Linked DNA regions of Homo sapiens: region 2 is linked to region 1. Evidence: fine-mapped expression QTL. Tissue or cell type: whole blood. Region 1 holds a variant in brackets; the other region holds the start of a gene. All regions are shown on one strand. Distances are between the middles of the regions.

Evidence for each region. PIP is the estimated chance that this variant, and not a neighbour inherited with it, causes the effect.
Region 2: MCTP2 starts here. The variant in region 1 is fine-mapped to the expression of MCTP2 in whole blood (TOPMed, PIP above 0.99).

Annotation. Positions count from the first base shown.
Region 1 is chr15:94,401,388-94,409,574 of GRCh38, reverse strand. It overlaps MCTP2 (multiple C2 and transmembrane domain containing 2), which reads right to left. Exons shown (of 23, transcript NM_001385001.1): 17 at 7,556-7,675. Among named protein-coding and RNA genes, the nearest start is that of MCTP2, 170 kb to the right of the region's middle. The variant G/A (reference allele first, on the strand shown) is at 5,049.
Region 2 is chr15:94,226,625-94,234,811 of GRCh38, reverse strand. MCTP2 (multiple C2 and transmembrane domain containing 2) reads right to left here and starts at 3,251. Exons shown (of 23, transcript NM_001385001.1): 1 at 3,148-3,251. RefSeq lists a silencer at 3,192-3,321 and an enhancer at 4,857-4,996.

The sequences.
Region 1 (8,187 bases):
GTATCTCTGGAAAGCAGAGTGAATTAGACTGCACTACTTGGGATCTGTAAAAGACAAGGAATCCGTATTAGTCAGGGTTATCTAGAGAGATGGAACTAATGGAATAGGAATATATATATATTCATATTTGAGTATTATCATAGCCTTGAGGTAGAGCTCTGCTTGGCATCTGGTGGTTAATATATATGAGTTTATTAAGTATTATCTCACACAATCACAAGGTCCCACAATAGGCCATCTGCAGGCTGAGGAGCAAGGAGAGCCAGTCCGAGTTCCTCAACTGAAGAACTCGGAGTCCGATGTTCAAGGGCAGGAGGCAACCAGCATGGGAGAAAGATGTAGGCTGGGAGGCCAGGCCAGTCTCTGTTTTCACATTTTTCTGCCTGCTTATATTCTAGTTGCACTGGCAGCTGATTAGATGGTGCCCACCCAGATTAAGGGTGGGTCTGCCTTTCCCAGCCCACTGACTCAAATCTCCTTTGGCAACACTCTCACAGACACACCCAGGATCAATACTTTGTATCCTTCAATCCAATCAAGCTGACATTCAGTATTCACCATCACAGAATCCTGAAAAGAAAATTCAGAGAAGGCAGAAAATATGTGCTTGCAAGTGCACACCAACAGAAAGCTCAGAAAAGGCAGTGGTAGTGACACAGGGTCCCACGCAGAGCCTGGACCTACACACAAAAGGGGGAGCTAACCATTTACATCTACCAGGCTATGTGAATATGGCTGTGCTATGATTACAATAATTGAGATCTAATGTTTACTAGTCAAAATTGGAATGCTCCAAAAGAATAAGTGATTTCAGTCGATCTAGCTATGATTCTGTCTGGAATCACAACTCACAAAATTGAAAATATAAACATGAAAATATGCTAAAATAGTTAATAGTGTCCTTTTAAATTTTTAACAGATAATCTTTTTAATGCGATTACTGTAATTTTATTAAATTGCATAATTAGTTAATGCCTGAGAACCTGCCAATAGAAGGTGCAATTATGTTGTAAAAATTATGCTCACAATATGCAATGATGGATTGTTCCTATTTTAAAAAAGTGCTGAAAAAAACTTTAAAACATTTTGAAAGTATATTATGTAGTCCTTCATGAAAAGGAAGACTAGGGAAACTATCTTATATATGTTAAAACCATAAGATGCCAAATATTTTAAGCATTGAATATACCTATATATTTTGCATATATGTGTATATGGTTCTGTGTGTGCACTTATATATACACACTTTTAAGATGTCTAAAACCCCTCTTCTTCTGGTTATTGTAACTGAAATTTCTTTTTTCCAGCTTTACACAAATACTTTTAATTTTTGAGCATCAACTGCACACACACCTAGCAAATGGGCAGCGATGTCTGCTCTGCACATCCAGTTGTGACTTCTGGTGGATGTCATAGCCAATGAAAGAGCTTAATGAAATGCAGGTGCATTTCGTTGTGAGTAAACTGGTGACAGAACTTAAAGTAAATCTTTTAGACACAGTTAACACATAAATATCGAAAGCATCAAAAAGACATTTGACCAGCATTATTTAATGAGTCGAATCTCAAAACAGTGTTGCATTTGTCATTTGTACCAAAGCAAAATGAATCTGAATGTTTTTCGGTCCACAGAGAAATCATGGAAAACAGCAGTCCTCAAGGCCTTGCCTTTGGTTTTTACTAAACTGCTTTCACAAAACATTCAACAGAGCAACTTTTAATTTCCCAAATGTCCTCTGCTTCTTCGTGTTCATGCATGTGTGTGTGTGTGTGTGTGTGTGTGTGTGTGTGTGTGTGTGCACAAGTACATGTGTGTTGGAAGGGTTGGCTCTATTACTGCTACTGTTGTTTTTAAGTTCTATGTGAAATTACTTCACATTTTCTCAATATTCTAGGATCTCTAAAAGCTAAAAATTCTATATATGTTAAATATGGGATATTACCAAGCGAGTGGACAGTTGTATTTTTTAACTTTATTGAGGGAGAGGTTGATTGATGCTTTAATTTGTGTATCATATTTCAGTCCTTGTCAACTCTGAAAAGTAAATTCTTTATTTCCCTATACTCAAAAAATCGGAAAAAAGTCACAGATGTTAAAATCATAGCTTTATGAAGATACTCGTTGATATATGGTAGATTTAGATTACTTTTTAGATCAAACATCCAAGTAAAAATTTAATAAAGCAAAGAATCCATCAATGCCCCACAAACTTGCCTCCCTTGATACAATAGGTGTGTGCCTGAAATATCGGTGGAAAAATGAAACTGCATAAATGCAATTCTATGTTAAAAGCATCAGAACTTTGCTGTTTAAAATCACCTTCTGATGATGCCATCTGTCAAGTAAATAATATTTTAACATATGAAAAATGCATTTATATAATAATATAACTTTAGGACTTTTAATAGACAACATTGGGGTTTATAAAATATAAGTATGTCATAACAAAACACCCATACATGATTGGATCTACCAATATAAATATCACAATGCAAAGTTATCTTTTGAGAACAAATTTATCTTTATTATGATCAAATAATGTATTTGCACTGAGACACTGGGTATATAAAATAGAGATCCCCACTAGACATATGGGCCTATCTCTTTTATAGCTATTATTTCAAGATATTTTAAAGGAACATAAGGGGTGGTTATTCTCTTCTACCCCATCCCTTTTCTGAACAACTTGGAATACTTAAAAAAAAAAAAAAAAAACAACTGAAAAGTCCAATGCCTTCCATGATCCCTTCCACTAGTTGTTTTCTGTTTTTACTTTCTTCTCCCCTTGAAAATCCCTCTACATCATCTAAAAGCATTCCTCAAAGGTGGGGAAAAACAAGTCAGACTGTAATTTGGGACTCAGTCTAGAACCAAGGCTCTAGGGTTTTTCAAATTATCCAGCTGGATTCCAAGGATGCCAAATGCATGTGATGCCCAGGGGCTGGGCATTTCCATGTTTGGCTTCTTTAATTTTGGTCTCATCATCACTTGTGAATAAAATAACTGAGCTAAAGAATTATTCTCGCCCATGTAATGAGGGTTTCTTTCCTGTATAGCATCACAGCTTGGAACAGGCTTAATCCCCACACATAATATCTAAATACAGATCTGAAACAATCAGTATGGTTGGTCCCGGTGTCACTATGTAAATACAAGGACAACAAACATTGCATCCTGGGCATCAGTGAGAGGCAGAATAGCTGAAGGGTTAAGCCTGCACAGACTAAAGCAAGATGGCCTGGGTTTCAATTCCACCTCTACCTCATACACACACATGAGCTCTGTCACTGTACTTGACCTCTATAGGCTTATTTTTCTCATCTGTAAAAAGAAGATAGTAATCACCACCTACATCAGCAGGTTGTTGTGAGAACTAAATTTATAAAATCCTTGGGACAGTGTCTAAGCACTGAAATAACATGAACTATGAATAATAGTTCAAATAGTCAAAATCTGTGTGGGAATGGCCATGTACACGTCTTGTGTATGTATATAAATGTATATACATGTGTATAAAATACCACATATATTTACAAATCTATTCATAGGGAAATATACAGGTGCACTTACTTCAAGGCAAAATATTTCAGTTCTATTTGGCCTCATTCACTAAGTCAACATCTCATATTAATTTGTTTTTCAAATGGGAAAGTCAAGAATGTTACTTTCTGAAGGAAGAAAAAAGAAAAAATATATCCTTAATTTAATATAACTAAGTAAACCTTAGAAAAGGCAAGATACCAAAATATCTGAAAAACATAGGGGAAAGAGAAAGACCCAGAAGACAAAATGAGAAAGATTTTCAATGTTCATCCTAACAAGAAGAACTGAGTCTATAGAAACTTGACTTGGAATGGTCTGACCACCCTACAAATGCCCATGTTTAATTTCTTATGATAACAATAAATTCAACACTATGCAGCAACATTAACATAGCAGGTGCATTACTGATAACTTTCTTCTCTCATGTTGGGAATACAACCACTCCTGTAAGTGTAGCAGTGATAAATCGCATGGTAGAGGAAGGTGATGCTTGGGTCATCTAGCAAGGTGAGTTCTCTCACGTTTGTCCATCCACTTCTGACGAGACACCATGCGGACCTAGATCTTAAGAGCCTGCTTTTCTTTAACTGCTGCTTTCAACAAGATACGATTATGTTCATGCACATGTACATAGGCATCCATGGAAAACGTATGGTTTGCTTTCATAAAGTCTTAAAATTGACATTGAGAATAGATTAAACATGATTCTGCAATGTTCATGTTTGTATCACCTGGAGCTAGAGTCTAGAACATAAAGTTAATATTTTATGTTTTCTCAAAAAACAGAAGAAAAACACATCCCTTCAGTTCTGCCCTTAGTTTGTTGTGTTAGCATCACTTCCTGTACTGTCACAAGAAGAAAAGCCCCACCAGGGACTGGTTCAACTAAAATAGCTCCTTTCACACCTGTGTAGCAAACCCTCAACTATCACATTCGCTAATTTCAATTAGAGGACCTGACTACGGGTCATTTAATAAATCCTTGGCTTAAAACCTTGCTTCAGACAGCGCCTCTGTTCTGCCCTGTCATGCCAAGGCGAGCAGTTGGAACATGAACAAAGTGTCACAATGACGAATAAAGACACCAAGCAGCATTCTGTCAACAGATCACAGGAGAACATCCGTCAGTGTGTGTCACCCCTGACAGATATGGCAGTTGCATAGTGAAGAAAGGCAGAGGAGAGCCTGGGCTTGAGGATCCAACATTTTGCAGAAAGACAACCCATCATGAAGCCCCACAGACTCGGGGACACAGCACTACAGCCAGGGCAGCCCCCTAGGTGTGCAACCCGCCCCGCCAATCCAGTCCCCTACAGACAGCTAACAGGTCTACAGGCAAGGTACATAAATGAAGGCGTTTTCAAAGAAAAGGACATGAAAGCTTGGCTACCCATAATCTTACCAAAAGAAGAATGAAAGAAGATGAAACGGAGGCCAGGTGCGGTGGCTCAAGCCTGTAATCCTAGCACTTTGGGAGGCCGAGATGGGTGGATCACAAGGTCGA[G/A]GTTCAAGACCAGCCTGGCCAATATGACGAAACCCCGTCTCTACTAAAAATACAAAAATTAGCCGGGCATGGTGGTGCGTGCCTGTAGTCTCAGTTACTTGGGAGGCTGAGGGAGAAGAATCGCTTGAACCCGGGAGGCAGGGGTTGCAGTGAGCCAAGATCGTGCCTCTGCACTCCAGCCTGGGTGACAGAGTCAGACTCTGTCACAAAAAAAAAAAAAAACAATAAAAAATAAGAGATGAAACTGAAATACATTTATTATTCTGTCTCAAGAAAGCATTTTCTGTATAGCCTCTCATTTTAATAGCAGAAATGGTTTTGGAATAATCATAATAGGAATAAAAAAACAACTTTTAATAAAATTACACTTCATCAACTTAGGGAGGGGAATTATCCACCACGTTATGGCTGCGGTATTTCTGAGAATCACCAAGGCCAGTCAACATACACATGGTCTAAATTTTTGGAAGTAGAGTTTTAAATTAAAACTGAAAACGAGTTTAAGTGAGCACTTTTATTCCAGTACTTTCAGGACAACCAAATGATAGGCTGTAGGTATATAGCGTATCTAACTGGCTCTGCATTTTTTTCAATGGTGTCCAATGAGAAATGTCCCTATACACACAGTCGCATATACCCATGGATCCTTGCAAAATCATACTTTGGAAAACCAGCAAGGAGAACACCACCTTGATCTTCCTTGCTGTGGGCCTCAGAGATCTGAGAGTACAACATGGCAGCCTGCATTCTCCAGCGTGGGGGCGGGCTCTGCTCCGAGGCATGAAGCTCAGCAGTGAGGAATCCCTCAGAGAAAAGGCCGTGGAGAAGTGGCTCCATTTCTAAGCCTCCCTTCCTGTTTAGAAGTCCCCTCTATTAGACAACCTATTTCTATTCATCTGTTCTAATCTTTCTTCAGATCAAGCCAGCAGCCCATTAATCATTTCTGTCATCTCCCTACAGAATCCAGGGCAACAGATCTCTGTTTTTCTAAAATCACAGTGCCAGAAACTAAACTCGAGAAAGAGGAAATCCTCTCCTCCTCACAGTGGCTGTCTGGGTGCTGACTGGAAGAAGCCACCAATTGTGTTCACTTTCCTCTTTTGCCCAGAATTGCATAGAACATTCCATGGAAAGTTTTGAAAGGGAATTCGGGTGGGAAGTGGAGCTGGGGAGGTTGAAGGGGAACTCAACGCATGAAGCCACCAGCTGAGGAGAACGTGAGAAAGGGAAGTGGATAAACAAATGCTGAGACAATGACGGATACAGATTAATAAAACCTTTATTAGTGTTTTTATTAAGGCCAAATGTTTTAGCAACTTCAGACAGCAGAAAAAGTATAGGAAAGGTCAAGCCTACAGGCAGCATAGGTCCTCTACACCGAAGCAGTGGAGAACTAAAATAAACGACAGCAAACAAAATACCCCCCAATGGCAAAGGAAAAGCCTCTTTTGGAGCTGATATACTTGATGGCATAAAAATGTTGGGAGTGACCTTGAACCCATTGGCTTCTTGGGCTAATAAATGTTTTTTTTCCCCCATTTTTTATATGAGGCTATGCCTGTTGGCTAAGAGAGAACATTCAGCATATATTGGCAGTAGAAAACAGAAGCAGAACCACATAACATTCAGAAATCAGATTCACCAATGATCATGACTGATATTCACACTCTTAGACCACTCATACCTCGTATTAGTTTTTATAGTGATCTTTGCACAGGACAGAAATGAATGGCATGATACCAAATATACAAAGATTTGCAGTCGGGAGACTTGATTTCTCCTCCCATGGCTGACATTACCAATTTGATCAAGGACAAGTCCCTTTACAAATGAGAGAAAATGCCCTGAGATATAAAGTGAAGGCATGAGGCCAGCTGTGAAGTCCTTCCAAGATTCTTGGGCTCTCAGTGGTAGACTTAGGTGGTTTTAAGATCTCTTGCAGCGCTTTGATTCTGCGATTTTATTATGCTCATAAGGATGGGCCAATGTCACCAGAGAAAAGGGTACATTTCATAGACAGGGGTGGTTCCTCTTTGCGGTGCTGAATGAAATTGCAATGTGTAATGATCAGTATGTCCCAACTGGCTTGAAATGAATAAACATCTTTAATATCAAAGTTTGGGAATAATTTACTTAAAATGTAAATTGAACAATTCAGTTATTATTTAGTCCTGTGATTTTTCAGATGCCATTTTTCAGAAATTATGGGCGGTCACTGGCACAGAAAGAAAAAAAATACACACAATGCAGGGCTATACAAATGTAGCTGTAACAACAACTGGAGAAACATTTAAACATATATATACAACAGTAGTGCTCTTAAATTTACCAAGAGACCATATATGACTAAGATTTGGGTAATTTAAGGGGTTTCCCAGGTAAATTTGACCTAAGTACTGTCTTAGAAAGACAACCCCCACGTAATCACCTACGCTGTAATATATTTCAGAAAGATGAATAGATGCAAATAAGAAGCAAATAGTTTGAACATAAGAAAGGAAGCTTACCGCGAATGCTATTGTACTTCTTAATGTGGATTCCCACTGGAAGCAGCTTTTAAGGAACTGCATTGTATTCCATATTGCCATAGTGATTCTTTTCACACGGTCCACATCTCTTGATAAGATCTGATTTTAAAAAATGACAAACAGGAAACTAGATTTAAATACTACAAATATTCCATCTAGATCAGGTACCCTGATCATTTAAATTATATTTTGTATAGATCCCAATTTTAAAATATGATAATAATAGAAAGGAGAAGACCTGACACTTCTAAAAGTCTTTTTAAAATATGATCATCCATAGAGGAAATGAGAATCAAATGCATTTTAGCGCTCATCTGAAAAAGAATAGCCTGTTTCAACAATGTTCAGCACAAAAATGGAACTGGTGAAACTGCAGAAGCCAGGTATTTAATGTTGGTGAATTTGTGTGAGAAAGACACATGCAGAGGCAGAGAGAGAGAGAGAACTAGAAAGAGAAAGACAGAGAGAGAGAGATAAAGAGAGATACAGACACAGAATGAGTGTCTATGTTGTTTAGTTTGGAAGCAAATGAATAGATTTACAATTAAAACATGCAAGTATTATAGCTTATCTAGTCCAGAGGTCTACAGAGTTCTGGGAAGGGATTGGAG
Region 2 (8,187 bases), 170 kb after region 1:
GCTCCATGAGACTGGGAGTTCTTGACAATCAGGACTTCGCCTTACTCAGGACTTGGGACATTAGAAAACTCCCAATAAATGGTGACTGATAGTTGGAAAAGCCAATGGCCAAAGGCATCCCTGAGAAACAAACCAACCTGGAAAGTCTTGAAGACCAGCTCTCAGAATTGTTCGTTGGACATGAGTGTCCAGAGTGTCTCTGCTGTCCCATCCAGCAGTCTCTTCTCTGCTCAGTGGAGCATGAGTCCTTTGCCTTTAACCACAACTTTCCCTCTCACTCTTTGAGGGTAACAGAGCTTCAACTTTGGGCTTCTCACTAGCAGGGCCCCCCGTGGGTGTGACAAGCTGCTGGGAAATGCTGAGTGTTCTCAGGGAGAGGGGAAGCCGGATTGCAATCAGCACTCCTGTTTTTGTAAGCATTTCTGGTAAATTGCCCAAGATCTCCACAGAAACAGGCAGAAATCTCCAGTAAATTATCATCTCTTTTTCTCATTTTAAATACATATTCACTTTCACACCTAATTTTGTATTAATTTTCTTAAAGAGAGTCTCCAAATTGTTTACCTTTTAGGCCTCACAAAACTTGGAACTGCCCCTGCTTCATATCCCCTACATACTCTCCTCCTTCATCACCCACCCTGGTTCCCCATGAGAACACCTTACCAGGTCAGGCACACTTTTATAAACACCTTCTAGGAAGGACTTAACAGCTCAGCTCCTAAAGAGGAGTTTAAGGTGTCTGGCTGTTTCACCTCCACGTGAAGATAGAGGGAAAAAAAAAATCTGTGCCAAGATTGACGCAGGCAAAATATTCTACCTGATCCTCGCTTCACGGGCAAAGCCTTTTCTCAACAGTTAACTGGCAACAATTCAAGGTAATTTAAATATAAAACCCCTTCCATTTCTGTGTGTAATTACCAACAATTACAAGAAAAGTTTTAAGAAAGCAAGTGTTTTCCACAACAAGAAATATTATTTGAATTCAGAGTACTATTTTTCACTCACTTTCCATTCTCCACAGTATAATAATTTTAATTTGAAAATTACTTTCCTGGTTTACATGCACTTAAAGAAATTGTCAGTTGTTATAAATCCTTTATGCAAAAGTCAAATAAGGAACTTGATTCCTCGCCAGATCATCACATTGCAGTACTCTACAATTTCCAGAAGTAGTACTTCTGGAAATAGGTTTAAGGAAAAATATATATTCGTGTGTGAGCACAGGTTTACACAAACACAAAGTCCTTTCCAGGTGACAAGAGACCGCTAATCATCTTGCAGCTGTAAGAAATCAAGCTGAAATTGATTTCAAAGCCCACTCAGCTGAGAAACTCACCTCTGCAGGAGGAGACCATAGTAAAGCACACCAATAATAGGAAATTAGCTGTTCCTTCCATGTATAACACAGAGAGAATATATATGCAATTTTATTAATTGGCCCTGTTTGGATATATCAGGCCTTTCAAAATATGTTAAGAGACATAATAAATTTTATCTTTTAACATATTTTGAAAGGCCTTTCAAAATATGTTAAGACACATAATAAATTTTATCTTTTAAAGCTACATCTACTAGTCACAGATAGGTCACAGCTTGACCACACAAGTGCAATGAAAACAGTGCTCACTTCATTCCTGAGGACTACTTTAACTCCATTAATCCCCAGGAGATAGGATCTATGAATATAAATTTGAATTCTTATATTAAATCTGCCGGATTTACACTCTCCATCTTAGAGACAGCATGGAATAGTGAAAAAGTACGAGTTCTGCACTCAGAAATAGCCACATGCAATTTCTAAATTCACCACTGACCTTGTACAAATTACTGGACTCCTCTCTGCCTCAGTTCCTTATCTGCACAGGGGAATAGTATCTACTTTGTAGATTTCATAGACAAGACAAAGTGCCTAGCATGGTGCTTGGCACAGAGCTAATTCTTAATAATCTTATTTTAAGCATGGTTTTGACAATTTTTATTGCTTTGGAATGACTGATCAGGCTAATGACAGAGACTCTTCAAAGATTTACATTCTCCCTGCATTTAAATACTTATAACCAGCGATTACACAGGTGCTGCTGAGGCAAAGCGCAGCACCATTGGTCTCGTTCTAAACACCCACCTGTGAGGAATAAGTGCCTTAAGATTCCCCTTTGTATTAATATCAACACCTGTGCTACCCAACAGCACACCAGCCCGGCTCTCAGAGGTCTGCCCGTTAACAGGTGTACAATAAATATTTGTTGAATTGAAATGCTACTGACTCAAGCAAAAAATGAATGCTAATGTAAATTATAATCCATACAAATCCTTCAATAAGTGGTGTCTGAATTCTGTGCGTCCTGAAGCAAGTGTTCTAACGTCTCACGGTTCACTGAGAAGCTGCTTGGTACCTTAAGGGTTCGCACCCTTGTACCTTCCAGACCAAGCTCTTGTAAGCATCTAGAGGAGGCTGAAACCCTCAGTCAGCATCGCACAGAAGTTCATTCAGACTAGAGAAAACCTCTTTTATGGCAACCCAATCATTTAAAAAAAGCCGTCAGCACATTTGCTTAACAAATGGACAGTGCAGGAGGGAACTAATTGCGGAAACTAATCGCCACTCAAGTTCACCACCAACATCACTGTCTTTATTTTTAACTTACTTATCTTCAGTGGGATTGAGACACTGTTTGTTACCTACGCAATTATCCCAAGGATTTCTGCTCCGGTGTCGTTGAGCAAATGTCAGCGCAAAGAATTAAAGTTGAACCTCCGGGTCTCTACGAAGAGAGCGTATTAAAGCCCACCCAGCTGAGGAACTGACCTCTGTGGAAGGAGTCCTGGATGTGGCGGTGACTACCTCCGTAGCGCCCCGGGGAGACTGAATGTGTGGCCTTTAAAATGCAAAGAAATTCTGGGCCAGGCTGCCCTCCCCTAGTGCGCCTTCCAGTACGCCACGCCTGGATTTCTGCCTCCAGTCCTCAGGACACCTTTCTGATCTCTGAACCACAAGCAGCTCCGGGGTAGTAGCGCCACTGAATTCTCATCCTGGACCCTCCAGCTCCCCAACTCCCAGCTTCGGTTGAGAGAAGACGCCCACCCCCAGGCGGCGACCGTGCTGCCCGGCCCACGCGCGCTGCCAGGTGAACCCGGCACCGCCCTCACCTGTGCGAGGCCGCGTTCGGGGGCTGCAAAGCTGGGCAGGCGCGCGCCCCTCACCTGCACCGGACCCGCTGCAGTCGCCACTCGGAAGCGCAGGGAGCAACCCTGACGCGGCGGGGGCGGGGGCATCACCGAGGGCCCCCGGACTTCCTCGGGCCCCCCCACCGCCCTTGCGAGCCCCGCCTAAAGGGGAGGAGGCGGCCGCGCGTCACCTTTGAGCAGCCTCCGACCCAAGCGCCCGCGCTGCCGCCGGGAGCTCGGCCGGGTGTTGCAAGGAGGCGCTATGCTTGGTGCTGGGCACTGGCTGGGCGTAGAGAAGGCGATTACTTGTAACTCATTCGTTTGGGTTGGCTCACAGGAAAAGGAAGGTGTGTCCAAAAAGTCCGAAGTGAGGAAATAGGACGAGGATGGCTTGCAAACTCGTAAAGTCTTAATAAGCTGTCTTCGCTGATACTCAGAAGGGTTCTCTTCGCTCCTGTAGGTCCCTAATAGATTCATGGGAAGACAGCAGCCTCCCTTTGTAACGCCCTGACCCTGGGAAGAGGTACCCGAGCCAGACAGCCTATTAACCTATGCCACGTGTGCGCGACTGTGGGTGGAAGATGCCCGCCCAGATCCACAGAACTGTTTCCTGAGCCTTGGTGCCTCATCTATGAGATAAGGCCGGCGTACTGCTCAGCAAGCCGTCCCGAGTACTCGGCAGAGAACCCTAAAGACCCTCCCGTGCGATTGTTGGCACTCAGCGAATATTTGCTATTTATTTCCCCTTTCCCTTACTTTCTTTTTCTACTTTTTTTTACGCCGCTTTCCTGCTGTAATTGTCTTATTGCACTTTGTTTGCTCGGTTTCACTGCCTGGTCAGTTTCTTTTCCCGTCTATGAACGAGCCTAAGTCTGTGCGCTCTAGGAATTTGGGTGGATTAGGAAAAGAAATGTATGATCCATGCCTTCTGGGAGATCAGGGACTCATCTCTGGGAAATAGCATTTTTAAATTAGATACAAGAGAGTTACAGAAAATAACCTTAAAACGGGAATGGGACCTCTGGGAATAGGCGAGCTCTGAAATGAAGCGTTTAGTTGGTGTCACTGGTGATTAAGAGCTCCGGCTTTGGAGTCAGACCTCAAATCAAATTCTGCCTGGGCAACTAATTGTGTAAATGGACGAGTTCACTTAACCTCTCTAAATTTTAACTTCAACAAACTGGTTGTTTAAATAGCTTAAAATAGCTTAAATAGCTTAAAATAATAGCTATCTCATACTTTCTGAGAAATTAATTAGGTAATTCACATAAAATCCTCATTACAGTGTCCTGGGCCATGGTAACCACTTAATAAAAGTTAGCTATTAACAATACTAAGGTAGGAAATGGGAGGAAGGGGCATAAAAATTTAGAAAACATGAGGACGTGATAGAAAACAGCTGCCACTGTCATGCAATTCCGACTTACAACAATAGCTACCACTGAGGAACACAACTTCGCACCAGTTTCTGTGATTGGCATGTAACACGTGATCATATTGAATTTTCACAAACCAGGAGACAGTTAATAAAATCTCTGATTCAAGATGAGGAAAATGAGCATCAGAACCATGAAATAACCTGCCTGAAGCTATGAGTCAAGTTAGTAGCCGAGTCAGAGCAAGCTGAGGCCTATGGCAAAATTGGCTTTTCCCACCGTGCCGAAGGTTACATCCCCTAGCAGAGAACAGAGAGAGGTAAGGGTAAAACAGCATGAAAGGAAGAAGAGAAAGAGCAGTAGGCAGACGAAGCAATCATACCTTTAAAGCTGACTAAGAATACAAATGAATTAAAATAGTAAGTGAACCCACACAAAAGCTTTTTTGCCTTTAACTCCTGCCCCAGTGGAGTTCCTGTTCTGTGGTTCCGGCAGTCCAACCGCATTTTTCAATCATTAAATGGTATAGAAAGTGAAACAACTAAAGATACAGAAATCTAAGGTCACAACTTGCCCTTCCCACCACAATACACTCATCTGCCCAGCTTCCTGGGTTTTTTGTTTTTAATTGTTCAAACATATTACCTGTCTCCTTTTCTATGTTCCACCCAGGAAATGTCCCTTCCAGGGAATAATATTGTTGCTTATACCAATTTAACTTTACTACATAACCACACCAGCATTTAGAATGGCAACTGGACTCATACATGTAGCTGATAAATTTTTAACACACTTTTGTTATATTGAATTTCTCTAAACAGATTTTGAACCAGGTCTTACATTATAGGCACTGGTCAGTGATGTCATAATTATACTTAAAAAAAAATAAAATCTCCTGCACGTATCATAGGCAGCTTTCTCTCTCTTCTGAGCAACCAGATATTTGGCCTCTGAAGAAATGCCCCTATTGTCAATGTGATAATTGAGGTGGAGATTTCCCACTTTCAGATACAATTGCTTTTATATCTTAGACAATGTATGTTTGGTTGCATGACAATCTAATATTGGCACCTCTTCTTTTAAATTGTAAATGGAAGATGTGTCTTCTGAAGGCCCAGTGTACTCCTTGGCTATCATGGCTATACTGCCTGTCATACATGCAGAAGCACGGTTAAGTGCATACAAAGGCTAGATAACAATTAGTGCAGTTATCTAGCCACGTCCCTGTGCCTTTTTGAATGAGCCAGAGTATTTCAAATGAAACAAATGAAAATTGCTGTAGCCACCCAGAGTCTTTGACAATGAGGGTTAAAGCAGTCTTCTCTAAAGAAGACAAGACCCTGTCTGTAAATGCATAGGATCTAGAGTTCCATATCTTCTCTGCTCAGTGGGAGCCTCCTTGGGTCATCCTATCAGAGTTGGCCATGCAGTCAACACAGTCTGGCTCCATTTGGAGGACACAGAGCTAATCTTGCTGGGACAAGTCCCTTTATGTCAAAGAGAAAGCTGTCTGAGATCTGCTAGCAGTAATGTAAGGGCTTGGCACCTAGCTTCCCTCACATTTTCCTTCGTTGGTGCTTCTCATCATTTCTGGGCCGATAAGAGCAGAAGTAGAAAAATGACTGAGACATAAACATGTCAATTTAGATCTACCAGGGGTTAAAACGAATATAATGGTTAAAGCAAACTTCAGTCTATTGTCCAAGTAACAAATGTTTATTTTAGTGTGTGCTTTAAGGAAGAATATGCACTCTGTTACGTGGCGTTGAGAAATGGTACTTCTTTTATTGTTAGTGCAAATAGTCTTTGTTATTATATGTACTCAGGATTTTTTTTCCTTTGGTATAATTATCATGTTATCCCCTTTTTATAGGCAGGTGTGGAGAGACCAAATTTAGTGACTCACTCCAGACCTAGCTCTGCCACTTACTAGTTACGAGTTTATCCTGTAGGCTTCACTTTCTTGAACAAAAGAATGGACCTAACAGAAAATGAGTCCTATTCTCTAATTATTCAGAAAGACTTCTTATAAAATCTCTTTGGAAATCAACATCAGCATTGAATTGTCCTAATGATGATTCTATGTATCAAGTTCTTTTCTTTCAAATACCTAAACATGTATTTAACACAAGCTGATTAGCTGGAAATGTTCACAGGTAGTAAGTTGTTCAAAGATCGACTTTTATGGATGTTGTACCTTTATTGGGTGGGAACTTTTATGGCCAAAATGAACATCTGGTAGTGGTTGCTTCTGAAAAGTTAAAATTATTAGAGGCTTGGAGTTAACTCTTAAGAGACTGAGTCTGCCATTCATTAGATGGGTAAAGAAGAACCAAATTTACTTCTTCAGATGAAGGTTAACTTTGCCCAAGATTACTATCTCAGTACCAACATTTTTGTCTGACGATCTGAATTTCATTCAGTTAATTGCTTAAAACTTCCCCTAGGCCAGGGGAGAGGTTCATACTGTAGAGAATTTCTGTGGCCCCAAATCACATTTATTGAATTGTTCTCTAGTGTGTTGTCATTGGCAATAGTGGGGGGTATCTTAAGAATCTACCTTGGGAAATACGTTGTTGAACATACATTTGGCATGTTGGTCGGGGTCATTGTTTTTTAAAATTACACTGCCTGTTTTAAGATGATCCAAGGTAGAAGTTATCACTCATCTCAGATACAAAAATCTTGAGCTTTTCCACAACAAATGGTTTGTTTGCATCTTATGGGTTCTGCAAATAACACAGTTGAATTTGTTTTCCTCTCTAATTGAGCCACTAGAATGCACAGAGTGGCTCACCTCTGGCAAGTATTCAGAAATGCTTATTTGTGCATTGCACATTACAGTTATCTGTTTTTCTACCTGTATTTTCCAAAATGAGAGATGAAACTAGGGGAATTTTCAGGACAAGAATATTTAGATAACAATCAATTCTCCATGCAAAATAAGAAGTACATTCATTGATGTATTCATTCACATAATTAGCATGTATTCATCATCTACAACCAGGACCACAAACTAGGGTGCCTACATGGGTGAGACTGGTGAAATAGAGATTGACTGTGGTCACATATAAGAAGATAGAGACTGTGGCAAATAGCAGAGAGTAGGCCCACCTAAAGACATTCAAATTTACTTATTGTTAACCCTGTGCTGGCTAAAAAATACAGGTGGCCGAAAGCCTGGCAACCAGTTTGAATCCCCTGATCCATATATTAAGCTCTGTGATAAACTCTGTGGATATAACACAAATATGATAGCTTCTGCCCTCCAATGGCTCACATTTTCGCTAGATGTGTAAACAGATAAACACAATAGAGTGTCAGAGTGAAGAGGCCTTGATAGTAGCACCTGCAGAGCCCAGCAAGTGGTGTAAAAAACCAGGTAGAAAATACACCAGAGAATCAGCAGAAACCGGGACCCCAGTCAGTCCCAAGTGATGAAAAAAGGGAGTCTTCATGGGTGAAACCTGGCTTACACAATTGAGATAAGTACAGACTCAACTGGCAGACAAAGATCAGTTCAATAAATGAAGCCAGCCATCTAGCAGTATTTCCATAATCTTAATCAGAAAATCAAAATATAGACAAATGTGGAGAAATAATAACTATGTCTATGGCTGAGGACATTAACAAATTTTGGACTTGA